Regions from separate parts of the Homo sapiens genome. Here region 1 is linked to region 2. A link means that fine-mapping ties the variant in region 2 to the expression of a gene that starts in the linked region. Tissue or cell type: whole blood. Region 2 holds a variant in brackets; the other region holds the start of a gene. All regions are shown on one strand. Distances are from middle to middle.

Region 1 (8,084 bases), 110 kb before region 2:
GCTAATTTTTGTATTTTTAGTAGAGACAGGGTTTCACCATGTTGGCCAGGCTGGTTTCCAACTCCTGGCCTCAAGTGATCTGCCCGCCTCGGCCTCCCAAACTGCTGGGATTACAGGCATGAGCCACCACACCCAGACCCATCTCTCCATTTTAACCAGTGTCTTTCTGGAAGCCACCCTGCAATTTAGGCCTCTCTCACTTCTTCATGGTCCCCTGTGGAAACAGTGGGTCTCCCAGCCCCAAGGCCCCTGTGCTTCTCTGATGCCATAGCTCTCTCTGCTCTCCCTGCCTCCAAATGAAATCAGCCCCACTCCCTCACTAGAATGTCTCCAGGTCTTGGGAAAAGTCACTCAAGGTCACATCCAGATGTCTAGAACTGCAGAGGTGAAAGGGCTTTTAGAAAGCACCTTGTTCAGCTGGGCGTGGTGGCTCACACCTGTAATCCCAACACTTTGGGAGGCCAAGGCGGATGGATCATGAGGTCAGGAGTTCAAAACCAGGCTGGCAAAGATGGTGAAACCCCATCTCTACTAAAAATACATGGTGGCTCACGTCCGTAATCCCAGCACTTCGGGAGGCCAAGACGGGCGGATCATGAGGTCAGGAGATCGAGACCATCCTGGCTAACATGGTGAAACCCCGTCTCTACTAAAAATACAAAACATTAGTTGGGTGTGGTGGCACGCGCCTCTAGTCCCAGCTACTCGGGAGGCTGAGGCAGGAGAATCGCTTGAATCCAGGAGGCAGAGGTTGCAGTGAGCCGAGATTGCGCCACTGCACTCCAGCCTGGGCAACAGAGCGAGACTCTGTCTCAAACAAACAAACAAAAATACAAAAATTAGCGGAGCATGGTGGCAGGCGCCTGTAATCCCAGCTACTCAGGAGGCTGAGCCAGAGAATTGCTTGAACCTGGGAGGCAGAGGTTGCAGTGAGTGGAGATCGTGCCACTGCACTCCAAGCTGGGCCACAGAGTGAAAGAAACTCCATCTCAAAAAAAGAGAAAAAGAAAAAGAAGCACCTGTTCAATCCTTTCATTTTACAGATGAGCACACTCAGATGTGACTTGTCTAAGGTCACAAAGCAAAGCAGTGGCAGTCCTGTGACAAGAAAGTGCCTGACTCCCACCCCAGTGCTTTTAACATCCTGGCACCTGGCCAGGCTCCTCACTCATCTAAAGCAGTAATGCCCGGCTTCATCCCAGCAGGTGGGAGGGGAAAAGAGCAGCTCCCTGGAGTGGCGGGAAAACCACTCAGTGGGCCGCCGTCTGGGAGGGAGTCAGTCTGGCCCAAACATGACCATCAGCATGGACTCCTGCCTTGAGGCAGGAAGAGGAGGCACATGTTAATTGCCTTACCCCACTTCCTACACATAGGGAAACAGAGGCTGCAGGGAAGCACAGCCAGCCAGAGTACAGCATCAAGACTCAGACCAGGGGTTTTATGACTCTGTTCCTCTCCCAGCTTCGTGGGTCCAACTGCGCAAGCCCCTTGTATTTGTGTTTGGGGCCGTGAGGGTCTGCCTAGGGACACTGTGAACCTCCCAACTTTCCCCAATCCTTGACAATGGCACAAAGATCTGCTCCCCTGTCCCCACCATGCATTGAAAAGGGCCTCCTGAAGCTGGGCTTACTCAACCCTCCCTTCCTCCCTCTCCCACCTCTCAACTCCCTAAGATCAAACAAAGGCAAAACCCCAAAATATACACATTGCCAGATACACACACATACAGCAAGACACACCCCCCTCCACCTCTCACACTCACTACACACAAGGCCAGATAGACACGCCACAACCCTCCCCCACCCTGCGCCACACACACACACAATCACAGCCAGACCAGAGCCAGGCCCACCCTCGCTACATGCAGAAGCCATCCACATCCACCCCCCACCTAGAAGCACACAGCCTGACATCCCTGCCTGGAAACAGACCCTGCAAACACACACTAACCTTTTGTACGACCCTGGTCCACCCAGGGTAAATTATAACATAAGTCTTCCAGCAACAAAAGCAGTTCAGCTTCCAAAGTCCGCTCTGGGGACCAGAGGCTGGAGGGCTGCAGTGGGCATGTGACCTGCACAAAGCTGTACCCTCTTCCTGTTCGGGCTCTCTCCATTCCCATGACAACAGCTCCATCAACCAAGATCTCTCAGGCAAGGCCAGGGGCAGCAGAGTCCCCCTTCCTGCCCAACCCCCAAGACTTCAACTTGAACCCTACCTAGCTACACATGGTCTGGATCCTGGGGTTGGTTTCCTGCTTCATTCCAAAGTCAGTTCTAAAGCCTCAATCCCCCAACCCCCAACCAGGGGAGCCCGTGGGAAAACCTTCCCACCAAAAAGCTGCAACAGAGCTGGCTTTATGCTCCCAGTAATAACACCTTGGACCAGAGTGAAGGGGGGAGGGAGGAGAGAAATTAAAGAGTTTCAGGAACAGAAACTGCCAGAGGTCCCAGAGGAGGAGGCATCAGAACAGAGCGGGGAGGGGACAACCAGGAGACAGCCCTCCCCTCGAGACAGACCTCTGGGGAGACTGAGGCAGCATGGGGGACACTGAGGGACAAAGATCTCGGGAAGCGCTGGGTAACACTTCCACAATATTCACTGGCAAATCCACCCGCCTCCATGCCGCCTCCTCCCACCTCAAGCCAACCGGAGCGATTATGGGCAGACAGGGGCAGTGGGGGAGGGCGAGGGGCAGCCCGGGCCCACCGTGGAGACAGGCAGGGGGTGTCTGCTTGCCCGGGGGTCCCACGCCCTCAGAGCTAGCAGTAGGAGGGCGTGCGCAGGGTGGGGTGGCTGGGCGTCCCAGGGGAAGGGGGGCCAGTTTAGCAGATCCCCCTGCTTCCGCTGGCGATGGGAAATATTGCGATAAATTTCCCTCCATCCCCATTCTACCCCCAGCGCCCGGGCTTCCCCAGGAGCCCATGTCCAAGGATCAGGGACCCCAGTTACCGGGTGGCCGCTCCCACCTTCCCTAGAGCCAAACTTTCTGCGGGGCCCCGGGAGGGGTGTTCCGGAGGGAGGCTCTGCTGAGGTGGTTCGGGGAGGGGGCGGGGCGCCGGCGCCGGGACGGGGAGCGGGGACCGGCGGGGGGAGGTGCCCGAGAGGACCCGGACCCCGGCGGGGAAGGGCGCCCTCCCCCGGCCTCGCGGCCGCCCCAAAGCACATCCCCTTCTGCCGGCCCCAAGTCCCCGCGCGTCCACGGCGCCCCTGTGCCCACGGGAGAGCGACCCCCGCCCAGATGGAAAAGGGGGTAGACCGGGCAGAGCGAGAGGCGGCTTTGGCTCGTGGGGAGCGGCGACCCAACCCAGCGCGCATCCCGCAAGCCCTCCCGGCTGCCCCGGACCTTCCCCCTCGCTACCTCGGAACAGGGTCTGCCCGGGGGCTGCTGCACAAAGAGGTGGTGGTCGAGGGAGACGCCAAATCGTTAAGACGGGGAGCCCGTTTCGGCCATCTTGGAAGAGAGGAAAGGGAAAAAGGGACAGAAAAAAGGGAGAAAGAAAGGCGGACGGGGCAAGCTGGGCTAGGGACTGACGGGGCGCGGGGGGTGCGAAGGCAGGATCGGCTCAGAGCCTCCCCCTCCCATCGGGGCTTGCGAAGAACGGCCGGCCCCCATCCCAATCCCCAGAGGGTTACAGGCCAGGAGAGGGAAAGGCAGGGGGAGTCCGCTCCGCTTACCTGGGTTCGGGGTCCGGTGGGTCTCGGGGAGGGGGGGATGGGAGGGAGGGAGGGAAGGGAGGGGAGGGGGGCCGCAGCCGTGTCGCTCGCCCGGGCGGCGGGAGGGGAGAAACCTACGGTAAGAAAGGAGTTTGTGAAAGCGGCTTGGGGTGGGAGGGAGAGGGGAGGGGAGGGGACCGAGGGGGGAGGGGAGGGACCGGAGTGTGGGGGGGAGACAAAATGGCTTTTTTCCTCCAGACAAGAGTAGGTCCCGCCCACCACTCACCCACGTGACCTCATTCCTTCAGGATGCTGGCAGAGACGGGAAGAGGAGGGGGAGGCTGGCGCGGCCGCTCCCCGCCACCGGCTGCCGGGTCCCTAGCCAGGACGAGACCCCTCCCTTCCCATGCGGCCGCCCCGACCCCGGAGGATGGATTCTCTTATGTTACCTTCCGCAGTTAGCCCCCCTCCCTTCAAAATATGGGTTCCCCCCACTGACACTGTGATGCCCATCCCTAACTGGGGCGCCTGGAAAATGGTGAAATGGGGACTGGGCTGAAAGGTGGCTCGTGGTCCTCCACGCCCCGGCCTAGACCAAAGGGCGCGGGGCTCCGGCGGGGGACGCGACGCCTTCAGCCAGGCGTCCGAGCGATTTTCATTCACTCCAAGTGACACTCCCTTAAAATTAATAACTGCATCTGGGAGGGCGAGCGTGTCCTCCCCACTCCCCTTGCCCCCTCGGCGGCAGGGGCGCTGGCCCCGAAAAGCGGCGCACCAGGATCCAGCCTGGGCGCCTGGCAGGGAGCAATCGCGAGAGGGGAGTGGAGGTGCGGGGTGAGGCCGGGTGGGGGGCCTCGCCGCGGGGGGATCGGGTAGCTCTGGCGGAGGCTGCGCCCCCGGCGTGCTCGGGCAGAGAAGAACGGAGGCCCGCTGAGGATGGGAACTCAGGCTCCGGGTCTGGGACACAATAATCCGGCCGAAGGCGAGCGGCCACACTGGACTAGGAAACGAGGCGCCGGGCTGTAAGGTGGGCCCGCGCCTTTTCTCCTGCCTGGCGCTGATTCCCGCATTTTTCGCTCGCGCCCTGCGCTGCGCGCTGCCTGTGCGCCTCCCTGGGCGCGCGGGCGGGAGAGTCGGGCGAGCGCCAAGACGGCTGGGCCCGACTCCCACTGGCGCCCCGGCTCCACCTGGCGCTGGGGCTCCGGTCCGCAGTGGCTCCGGCAGGAGGGAGAGAACGAGGAGGGAGGCTTGGAAACGCCGGGAGTAGCGGTGAGGCCGACGCCGGGGAAGCGAATCGATACTGCGTTACTGGACGCCCGTGGGCCTCATGAGGATGGTCGATTCCCTCATTCGTTATTCACGATTTATTAGGGATGGCGGCCGCGTCTGTCCCTCCAGAGAGCTCGATTATCCATCCGGCCAGCAGCGCCATTAAGCGCACTGACGGTGGGAGGCTCGAGTTAGAAATTAGGATAGGAATCTTCGCCCAGTTTTGGAGCGCCTGCCTCCTCTTCCCTCGTTGCTCGCAGCCAAGGCAGCCGCGAAGCTGGGGGCCTCGGGTGAATGCTTTCGCCCTCTGGCCGGCGACCAGGAGACCTGCGCACACTGGCCGCCGAGTGACCCCAGCTCGAGCCTGCAGCCACACCAGCGGGACGGGGGCGGGGAGGAAGAGGAAGGGCGGAGAGACTTCCTTCCAGAGGGAGTGGTCCGAGAACCGGCGGGAGAAGGGCCAAGGGAAGATCCGGTCACCTGCTCCGGAGCCTGCAGGCGGAGAGGCGAGTAGTTCACCGGCCCCGGAGGAAAGGGGACCCTCCCACTGTTCCCAGGCAAATGTGTCGCCGGCATCCTGCACTCTGCCGGGGAAGACGCGCATCCACTCGCTCTGCAGGGAGGGGAACGCGGGAAGGACTCCCAGTCAGCCGCCCCTCTCTGGCTACAAGACCCCGAACAAGAGAAACCTGTAACAGGGGCTCTGCGGAGATCTGGATCCCACCCACCAACCACATGGGCACCTGGGGGGCTGCCCCTCGGGGCATTATCAGCCAGTGGGAAGGGGGTTGACGTTCCTCTGCGGCCCATGAATCCTGGAGGGCTGCCCGAGGGGCCACCGGGGTCCATCCACTTATTCTTCGGTTGTTAAGCGCCAGACAGGAGAGAACCGCTAGAGAGGAGTGTGCTAAGACCCTATTACCCACTAAAACTCCATTTTCATCTTTTGCGTCCTGGATGACTAGTCTCCACATTCCTGGCCTTTCTGGTTTCTCAGGAGAACCTTCTGACCCAACTCTTCCCACATCGAAAGAGTTTCCTAGTCTTTTGTTCTACTACTAGCCGACATAGAAAGCACCTGTCATGTGCCAGTGTCAAATACTGCGCTAGGAACTGGGAACTCAAGGCACAGGAGCCTGGCTTTTGCGCAGGGCGCTCACAGGCCGGTGGGTGCAAACCCTGAAGGACACACAGCCTGTCCCTTTAGCGCCCATCGCTTCTGGTGTGAGCTCCCGCTAAGGGTGGGTGAGTACTGGGGTGGGCTTCCAGAAGAGGCCTCCTTTGAGCCGAATCTGCAGAGACCAAGTGTCTATGAGAACTGCTCAAGAGTGCTTTGCACATTCTCCTCCACAAAGGTCGAGGCTCCCACTGCGCCCAGGAATGCGCCTCGTCAGACATTAGGCGCCCCTTGATTTTGTGTTTGCATCTCACGCGGTCCTCTAGCTGACAAGTGCATCAGAAGAGTCACAGTGGCTGTCACAAGCCAGAGACTCGCAGAGGACAGGAACGCGGGAAATCTAGGCAATTACCTCCAGCATATACCAAGAGCTATTGCGAGGATCAGATCCCTTTAAAAATGGTGACGAGACAGGAGAGGGCGGCTCCTCTAGAGCTTTCCGGAACGTCTTTACCTCTGTGTCCTTTATACCTTTTATCTCCCCCAAACAAGGTCCTTAGTCAGTTTCTCCTTCTATTTCCCCATCTTCCTCCCCCACCTCCCTGTGTAGTTCTAGGGGGAAAAAATGTGTTGTTTTCCTTTTTTTCTGATGCTTCTAATATTAAATGCGTCTATTTTCCCACTCTCCATTGTCTTGAGGTCTTCCCCTACCCACCCTGCCTAGTTCTGTCACGTCCCTTCTTTCCCTGTATCACAACAATGTTCTCCCTTTCTCACCTTTGTTTCTCTTCATACTTGTTTCTCTCTCTGTGTCTCTCTCATTCTCTTCCCTTCCAAATGTAGTATTTGGAGACTGTAATATCGATTGAGGCAGACAATAGAAAACTGTCGAACCTCCACTGTAAATTCATTCTTAATCCTATGAAAAAATGCATCCTGAAACGTGTTGCATGCACAGTGAGACAAAAACCTGTGTCTTTAGGTTTCCTGCGATCTAGCTTGGAGGCGGGTTGGGGGGGTGTGGAGGGAAGTGCTGGAGAAATTATCCCATTATTGACTGAGCAGCAAAGAATTTTCAAGAACAGTGATTCTCCTAGAAAAAGTATTGCTGCTGCCATTTCAATGCAAAATTTGGCTTTTGAGTAAAAGGCTTAGGTTTTTATCTTCCGGGGAGAAAAAAAAAACCCAAAAGACAAAAAAAAAAAAAAAAAAGGTCATAGCGTCCCTGGGTGGGCTCGAACCACCAACCTTTCGGTTAACAGCCGAACGCGCTAACCGATTGCGCCACAGAGACCGAGTCGACTACCGGCGTAGTAGTGAGCCGAGTCAATGGGAGCGAGCCTGGACGGCGCAGACGCCGTAAGAGATGCCGCCATCGGGCGAAATAAGTGGAACCCGGGGGAGAAAGGGAAGGATCCTGATGGGGGAGGGAGGCGAAAGAGCTTGGGAGGAGAGGACGCGGGACGTGCACGCCCTTCCTCCATTGGAACGGCGAGAGGTCGACTCTGGCTATCCTCAGGTTCTACCTCAAACGTGGAGAGGCGCGGAACGTCCCTTTTTAGGGTGACCTGAGATTGAGGATACGTGAAGTCGGGCCGCAGGAAGTCCCCCAAATCAGAACAAGCTTCGGCTTCCAAACTCCCTTTCACAGCTGAACCCCTGCAGCCGCAAAATACCCGCGACGCCTACACGCGACGCCTTCCCCTTCCCACCTGCATCATTAAATTTCCATTTAATGGGCGCCTCCTATATACTAGGCACTGTTGTGGGCCAGTGAATATTCCGAGCCTAGGCAAGTGCCTGGTACACAGTAAACGCAGGATTTCTGGAGTGAATAAATAAGCTAGCACGACTAATACGACGAACTCATACATCACGTTGATAAGCGTCACGGTGCCCCTTCAGCTGGGGCCGCAGCTTCCTAAACCCAGTTTCACCAGCCCACGTGCGCGCAGGCTCCGCCCCCAGTCCCTGAGGTCCCGAGTCCAGGTCCGCCGAGATCCCACTATGCACCGTGTCGCAAGTCTCTTCCGCAGCCACA
Region 2 (8,099 bases):
AAAAATCTACTGGACAGCATCGTGGGGTGGATACAGGAATAGGAGTAACTGTAATACAGGGCTGACAAATCAACATCACATTTGTAAATCAAGGGATGGCCAGGAACTCTTTAGAAGAGCAAGACATCCCAGGGTAGAGACAGATTAGGCAGGCACAGGAAAAAAGTGCAAGCGCTGAAGTTAAAATGCACCAAACACCAGAAGTTCTAAAGCCAGACAGGACACAAGCTGCAAGTATTTTGAGGCCTCCCCCTTTAAATCATACACCTGACAGGAAAAATTTTGAGTGGGGAGCCTGAGATTAAGTAATGAGCAATTAGCCGGGTGTGGTGGTGCACACCTATGATCCCAGCTACTCGGGAGGCTGAGGCAGGACAATCTCTTGAGCCCGGGAGGTGGAGGTTGCAGTGAACAGATATGTGCCACTGCACTCCAGCCTGGGCAACAAGTGAGACTCCATCTCAAAAACAAATAATAAAATAAGCAACGGGCAGCTTGTTTTCGTTTTGTAATATATTTTTTTTTGAGAGCCCAGGAGGCGGAGGTTGCAGTGAGCCAAGATCGTGCCATTGCACTCCAGTATGGGCTGGGCGACAGAGAGAGACTCCATCTCAAAAAACAAAACAAAACAAAACAAAAACAACAACAAAAAAACAACTAAGGTATGGAAGTGACAAGATGATGGTCCCCCCTCCAACACAATATGAGCAAAAACTTAAGATACTTATCTCACACTGCCTCTCAATGGAAAACAAACTTGAGGCCTTGAAAACTGATCCATTTTCCAATAAAGGAAAGCGTCCCCCCACTACTCATCAGTATTAAGGTGGGCTCAGTGTTTACTCACCCTTTTTTCTGAGCTCTGGTTTGCCTTTCTTGACTGTGGCCATCACCATGTCACCCACACCAGCAGCGGGAAGTCTGTTCAGCCGTCCCTTGATCCCCTTCACGGAGATGATATACAGGTTTTTGGCTCCTACAAAAGAATGTAAATAAAAATAAAAAATGTTGAGGGCCATCAGGCCGTTCCATCAGTATAACATTTCCCAAACACTTCCAAAGCCCCTCCCTCCACTCACTGCCCAAGCAGTTAGTCCGCAAGAACGCCTTGTCACACCACCGATTGAAGCAAACAACACATGTTGCCACTTCACCCAAAAGCGATGTTTTCACTCTCCCCTTTCTTGACGGCTCAATAGGTCATTAGCCACAGGCCCATTGAGTGCTTTTAAAAGGGGGAGTATAGCAACGTGCAAAGACCTCACCTGTGTTGTCAGCACAATTGATTACAGCTCCTACCGGAAGACCCAAGGAAATCCGGAATTTCGCACCAGAGGACCCACCACGTCCTGTGGATATAAAGGGAAGGGAAACAGGATAAAGAGATCACAATCTAGACATGGTTCGGAGTTCCCCCTCATACTCAAGCTGTAATTCACCGCACATGCTTTGATAGACTGTACGCTATAGATTAGCTCGCTCGGATTTTACTTATGCCGTCCCCATGTGCCACCCGATTCTCACGGAAAGTAGCCTATTTCTTACTATTAACACTCTGACATCGAAATTAAGAAACCTAGACGACTCAACCCTTGCTCTAACTTTCGCAAAACGCAATTACTCCTGCAAGGCATAAAACCGCAGAGGTCGCGCAAACCAGGGCCTAATCCAGTCTAACTTCAACCCCATTACGATAGCCCTATTCGCGGAGCGATCTCGCGGTATCCAGACTACATTCACGTCGGGATCCTGCCATCTCAACTCTCCAGCACCCCACTGCCACTTTCGAGGGCCCTGGCAGTGCTCTCGCGGTGGCCTGGCTCTCTCTCTCCGGCCTGAAGGAGAGCAAAGCGCCCCAGCTGCCTAGGGCCACCGCTCCTGACGAATCCGCCAGCCACTGCACGACAGATGGTGGAGGATCCTCCAGAAACAAAACCTCACCTCGCTTCGACATCTTGAACGCCGGAAAAAAGAAAAAAGGAAGTCGATTCAAAGGACACTGGGATATGAACTTTAACGCCCCGCCCACCCTCCTCACGTGGCCGGAGCAAAAACCGGCCTCTTCCGCCTCTGGGCGCTGCCTTATTACGTAATAAGTTTACGACGTCGCTTTTAGCCCTCTCTGCGAAGTGGGAGTTGAGGTAGAAGCGCAAGAGATAGGAAGTATCTTCTCTACGAGCTTAAGAGTAGTTAGGGACATGGAAACAGTGATTTGTTAACTTGCTCACGACCTCTTTTGACCACTTAATAGTGCCAGGCACTTATCTGCACACTAGAGAATAGGAATTAAAACACGGTTTGTGCCGTGTGGGGGTTCCCCAAGGAACAAAGAAAGTGGGGGAGGGAGGGAGAACAAGCTCTAAACGGTTTCGTTGAATGTAATACAGTTGAGAAGTGCTGCAGATCATTCCATCTATGTGTTCTTGGTATCATACCATTCTGTATTTTACATATACAGTATTGCTCTATTTATTGACCCGTCCCCCCCAACACACACTCTTTTTTTCTTTTTTTGAGACCGAGTCTCACTCTGTCGCCCAGGCTGGAGTATAGTGGCGAGATCTCAGCTCACTGCAACCTCCGTCTTCCGGGTTCAAGCAATTCTCTGTCTCAGCCTCAGAGTACCTGAGACCACAGGCGCCCGCCACAACGCTGGGCTAATTTTTGTATTTTTAGTAGAGACGGGGTTTCGCCATGTTATTGGCCAGGCTGGTCTCGAACTTCTGATCTCAAGTGATCTGCCCGCCTTGGTCCCTCAAAGTGCTGGGATTACAGGCGTGAGCCCCCGCGCCAGGCCTAATTGCTCCTTTCACAGCTTCAGCCGCCCCTTATTCTCTGGGTTCTTTCCTTCCCACGATACATTAATTCACATACTTATTGAGCTCCTACTTTACAGCAGGTTCTGTCCAGGGCGTACAGCGGATTACATCAGAGAACAAAATAGATCAACATTCTTTTCCTTATGGAGCTTACATTCTGCTGGGGTGCAGGTGGAGGAGGATATTAGACACTAAACAAAAGATATAATAAGTAATTGCAGTATGTAGTATGTTAGATGGGGATATGTATTATAAAAATATAAATAGTATCGCTTCTCGGCCTTTTGGCCAAGATCAAGTGTAAAATATAAATAGTGGCCGGGCCTTGTGGCTCACGCTTGTAATCCCAGCACTTTGGGAGGCCGAGGCGGGTGGATCACGAGGTCAGGAGATCGAGACTAGCCTGGCCAACACAGGGAAACTCCGTCTCTACTAAAAATACAAAAATTAGCTGGGCGTGGTGGCGGGCGCCTGTAATCCCAGCTACTCCGGAGGCTGAGGCAGGAGAATCGCTTGAACCCAGAAGGCAGAGGCGGCAGTGAGCCGAGATCGCGCTACTGCACTCCAGCCTGGGCGACAGAGCTAGACTCCGTCTCAAAAATGTATATAGATAAATAGCTCTTTGAGGAAGACGCGGTCGTAGGTGTTGCGGATCGCTGATCCGCACGCTCCTGCTACTGACTCACCGCTGTTCGCCCTCGCCGAGGAACCAGTCGCTCAGGAAGCCGCGCAGCAGCCATGGCTTTTAAGGATACCGGAAAAACACCCAGGGAGGCGGAGGTGGCAATTCACGAATTCGAGTCACTCTAACGAGCCGCATCGTAAAATCCCTGGAGAAGGTGTGTGCTGACTTGATCAGAGGAGCAAAGGAAAATAATCTCAAAGTGAAAGGACCAGTTCGAATGCCTGCCAAGACTTTGAGAATCACTTCAAGAAAAACTTTGTGGTGAAGGTTCTAAGACATGGGATCATTTCCAGATGAGAATCCACAAGTGACTCATTGACTTGCACAGTCCTTCTGAGATTGTTAAGCAGATTACTTCCATCAGTATTGAGCCAGGAGTTGAGGTGGAAGTCACCATTGCAGATGCTTAAGTCAACTATTTTAATAAATTGATTACCAGTTTTTTTTTCTTTTTCTTTTCTTT[CT/C]TTTCTTTCTTTCTTTCTTTTTTTTTTTTGAGACGGAGTTTCGCTCTTGTTGCCCAGGCTGGAGTGCAGTGGCGCGATCTTGGCTCACCGCAACCTCCACGGCCGATATCTATCTATCTATCTCTATCTATCTCTCTCTCTCTCTCTATCTCTATAGAGATATATATCTATAGAGATAGATAGAGATATATCTATCTCTATGTATTTATCTATATTAAAAACAACTGGTAATCGGCCGGGCGCGCTGGCTCACGCCTGTAATCCCAGCACTTTGGGAGGCCAAGGCGGGCAGATCACCTGAGGTCAGGAGTTCGAGACCAACCTGGCCAAAATGGTGAAACCTCGTTTCTACAACAATACAAACATTAGCCAGGCGCAGTGGTTCACGCCTGTAATCCCAGCGCCTTGGGAGGCCGAGGCGGTCGGATCACCTGAGGTCGGGAGTTTGAGACCAGCCTGACGACCAACTTGGAGAAACCCCATCTCTACTAAAAATACAAAATTAGCTGGGCGTGGTGGCACATGCCTGTAATCCCAGCTACTCAGGAGGCTGAGGCAGGAGAATCTCTTGAAACCCGGGAGGTGGAGGTTTCAGTGAGCTGAGATTGCACCATTGCACTCCAGCCTGGGCAACAAGAGCGTTTGAAACTCTGTCTCAAAAAAAAAAAAACAAAACAAAACAAAAATGGGGCCAGGTGTGGTGGCTCATGCCTGTAATTCCATCACTTTGGGAGGCCAAGGTGGGTGTATTACTTGAGGTCAGGAGTCAGAGACCAGCTTGCCCTAAATAGCAAAACTCTGTCTCTACTAAAAATACAAAAATTAGCAAGGCATGGTGGCTCATGCCGGTAATTCTAGCACTTTGGGAGGCCGAGGCTGGTAGACTGCCTCAGCTCAGGAGCTGAAGACCCAGCCCAAGCAACATGGCGAAACCCTGTCTCTACTAAAAATACAAAAAATTAGCCAGGCGTGGTGCGTGCCTGCAGTCCCCAGCTACTCGGGAGGCTGAGGCACGAGAATCACTGGAACCCAGGAGGTGGAGGTTGCAGTGAGCCGAGATCGCGCCAGTGCACTCTAGCCTGGGTGACAGAGCAAGATTCCGTCTCAAAAAAAAAAAAAAAAAGATATTGACATGAAACCAGGCACAGTGGCTCACATCTATAATCCCGAAACAATTTGGGAGGTTGAAGCAGGAGGATCCCTTGAGCCCAGGAGTCTGAGACCTGCCTGGGCAACATAGGGAGAGTCCATCTCTACAAAACATTTAAAAATTAGCTGGTGGCGGCTGGGTACAGTGGCTCATGCCTGTAATCCCAGCACTTTGGGAGGCTGAGGCAGGCAGATCATCTGAGGTCAGAAATTTGAGACCAGCCTGCCCGTCATGGTGAAACCCCATCTCTACTAAAAATACAAAAATCAGCTGGGCATGGTGGTGGGCAACCTGTAATCCCAAGTACCCAGGAATCTGAGACAGGAGAATTGTTTGAAGCCGGGAGGCGGAGGTTGCAGTGAGCCCAGATTGCGCCACTGCACTCCAGCCTGAGCAACAGAGCGAGACTCTGTCTTAAAATAAAATAAAATAAAATAAGCTGGTGGCATGGGAATCTGAGGCAGGAGAATCACTTAAACCCAGGAATTGGGGACTGCAGTGAGCCGTGATTGCACCACTGCACTCCAACCTGGGCTACAGAGAGAAACCCTTTGTCATTTTCCAATAAAAAGCCCTAAGGCAGGGGTGTGACTGAACCGAATGAGCACCAGCAAGGAAGCCAGATGTGACTGGACAGGACGAGTAAAGAGCAAAGTAGTAAGAAATGCAGTCAGAAGTAATGGAACGGTGGCTCACACCTGTAATCCCAGCACTTTAGGAGGCCAAGGCAGGTGATAACCTGAGGTCAGGAGTTCAAGACCAGCCTGGCCAACATGGTGAAACCCTGTCTCTACAAAAATACAAAAATTAACCATGCATGATGGCAGGTGCCTGTAATCCCAGCTACTTGGTGGGTTGAGGTGGGAGAATCATGTGAACCTGGGAGGCAGAGGTTGCAGTGAGCCGAGATCACACCATTGCACTCCAGCCTAGGTGACAGAGCGAGAGTTCTGTCTCAAAAAAAGGAAGTCATGGAATGAAACCACTGTGGACTTTGGCATTGGCTGAGTGAAATGAGGAAACATTCTTTGATTTTAAGCAGAGGAGGGACATGATTTGACTAATGTGTCAGAAGGATCACTGTGGTTGAGTTGTTGAGACTACACTGTGGGAGAGGACACAGGGATAGAAGTAAGAAGATCCATTAGGAAGCTATTGCAGTAACCCAGGAGAGAAATGATGGTGGTTTGGACTAGAATGGTAGTAGTGGATGTAATGTAGTCAGATTCTGGATGTGTTTTGGAGGTAGAGCCAATAAAATGTGGGGTATGAAAGATAGGAATCAAAATGTCTCCAAGTCTTTAGGCCTGAGCAATTGGAAGATATCATTGCCGTCAACCAAGATGGAGAAGGCTATGGTTATAGGAGGAATAGTGTTCCTGGTTGGTACTACCACCAGTGTCTCAACCAAAAAACAGGGACACAATTAATTCTCTTCTCCCAGGCTCCTAGAAGTAGTCACCAAGGTCTATCAACTTGACTCTGTTTCCTAAATTTTTCTGCCCATGCCTTCCACGTTCTGCCTTTGTTTCAAAGCTATTGCATCGGCCTCTATATGGTCAGACCATAATTTCCCACTGCTTAAAATCATGTGCTGGCCAGGCATGGTGGCTCACACCTGTAATCCCAGCACTTTGGGAGGCCGAGGCAGGCAGATCACCCGAGGCCAGGAGTTTGAGACCAGCCTGGCCAACATGGTGAAACCCTGTCTCTAATAAAAATACAAAAATTAGTCAGGGGTGATGGCACGCACCTGTGATCCCAGGTATTCAGGAGGCTAAGCAGAAGAATTGCTTGAACCCAGGAGGCAGAGTTGCAGTGAGCCGAGGTTGCCCCACCGCACTCCAGCCTGGGCATGCAGTGAGACTCCATCTCAAGGAAAAAAAAAAAAAAAAAAAACAAGAAAACAAAACAAAAAACATGTACCGACCCTCTGGTACTTATAGAATACAGTCCAAGCTGTTTAAGCATCGAAGTCACTTGAAATGGCCTACCTCTTCCCTGGCTCCATCTTCTGCCACCTTGCCTCTTATATTTCACACACCAGAAACACCAAACCAGTTAGGATTTCTGGACATATAGCTTAGATTCACACTTTCTTGTATTTATGCATTCACCTGCTTTAGCCACTATGTGTTATTTATTTATTTATTTATTTTGAGACAGAGTTTCACTCTTGTTGCCCAGGCTGGGGTGTAATGGCACCATCTCAGCTCACTGCAACCTTTGCCTCCAGGATTCAAGTGATTCTCCTGCTTCGGCCTCCCAAGTAGCTGGAATTACAGGTGTACACCACCATGGCCAGCTAATTTTTTTTTTTTTTTGTATTTTTAGTAGAGATGGGGATTTTACCATGTTGGTCAGGCTAGTCTCGAACTCCTGACCTCAAATGATCCACCTGCCTCAGCCTCCCAAAGTGCTAGGATTACAGGTGTGAGCCACCATGCCCGTCCAACCTGTTCTTTAAAACTCTGCTCAGGTATCATTTCTTCTCTGAGCCGTTTCACAACCCCAGCAGTTTATTCTCTGAGCCACTTCTTTACTAGGAGCTGTGGTTCTCAAATATTTTCATTTTAGACCCCTTTACACTCTTTTTTTTTTTTTTTTTTTTTTAAGACAGAATCTCACTCTGTCACCCAGGCTGGAGTGCAGTGGGACCATGTTGGCTCACTGCAACCTCCATCTCCTGGGTTCAAGCAATTCTCCTGCCTTAGCCTCCTGAGTAGCTAGGATTACAGGCGCCCACTACCACGCCCGGCTAATTTTTTTATATTTTTAGTAGAGACGGGGTTTCACCATGTTGGCTAGTCTGGTCTCAAATTCCTGAACTCAGGTGATCCATCCGCCTCGGCCTCCCAAAGTGCTGGGATTACAGGCGTGAGCCACTGTGCCCGGCCCTTTTTTTTTTTTTGAGACGAAGTTTTGCTCTTGTTGCCCAGGCTGGAGTGCAATGGTGTGATCTCAGCTCAATGCAACCTCTG

The links. PIP is the estimated chance that this variant, and not a neighbour inherited with it, causes the effect.
Region 1: PCGF2 starts here. The variant in region 2 is fine-mapped to the expression of PCGF2 in whole blood (INTERVAL, PIP above 0.99).

The regions. Positions count from the first base shown.
Region 1 is chr17:38,744,518-38,752,601 of GRCh38, forward strand. It overlaps PCGF2 (polycomb group ring finger 2), which reads right to left and starts at 3,819. Exons shown (of 11, transcript NM_007144.3): 1 at 3,679-3,819; 2 at 3,362-3,454. TRN-GTT2-5 (tRNA-Asn (anticodon GTT) 2-5) reads right to left here and starts at 7,337; the gene lies at 7,264-7,337. It overlaps LOC100287808 (a long non-coding RNA gene), which reads left to right and starts at 4,517. Exons shown (of 1, transcript NR_149004.1): 1 at 4,517-7,235. RefSeq lists enhancers at 858-1,623, 1,624-2,388, 3,417-3,952.
Region 2 is chr17:38,851,757-38,859,855 of GRCh38, forward strand. RPL23 (ribosomal protein L23) reads right to left here and starts at 1,965. Exons shown (of 5, transcript NM_000978.4): 1 at 1,942-1,965; 2 at 1,266-1,349; 3 at 848-976. The coding sequence starts at 1,954. It overlaps SNORA21 (small nucleolar RNA, H/ACA box 21), which reads right to left and starts at 1,239; the gene lies at 1,107-1,239. It also overlaps the pseudogene RPS20P35. RefSeq lists enhancers at 818-1,601, 912-2,111, 1,602-2,385, 2,109-2,218. The variant CT/C (reference allele first, on the strand shown) is at 3,968.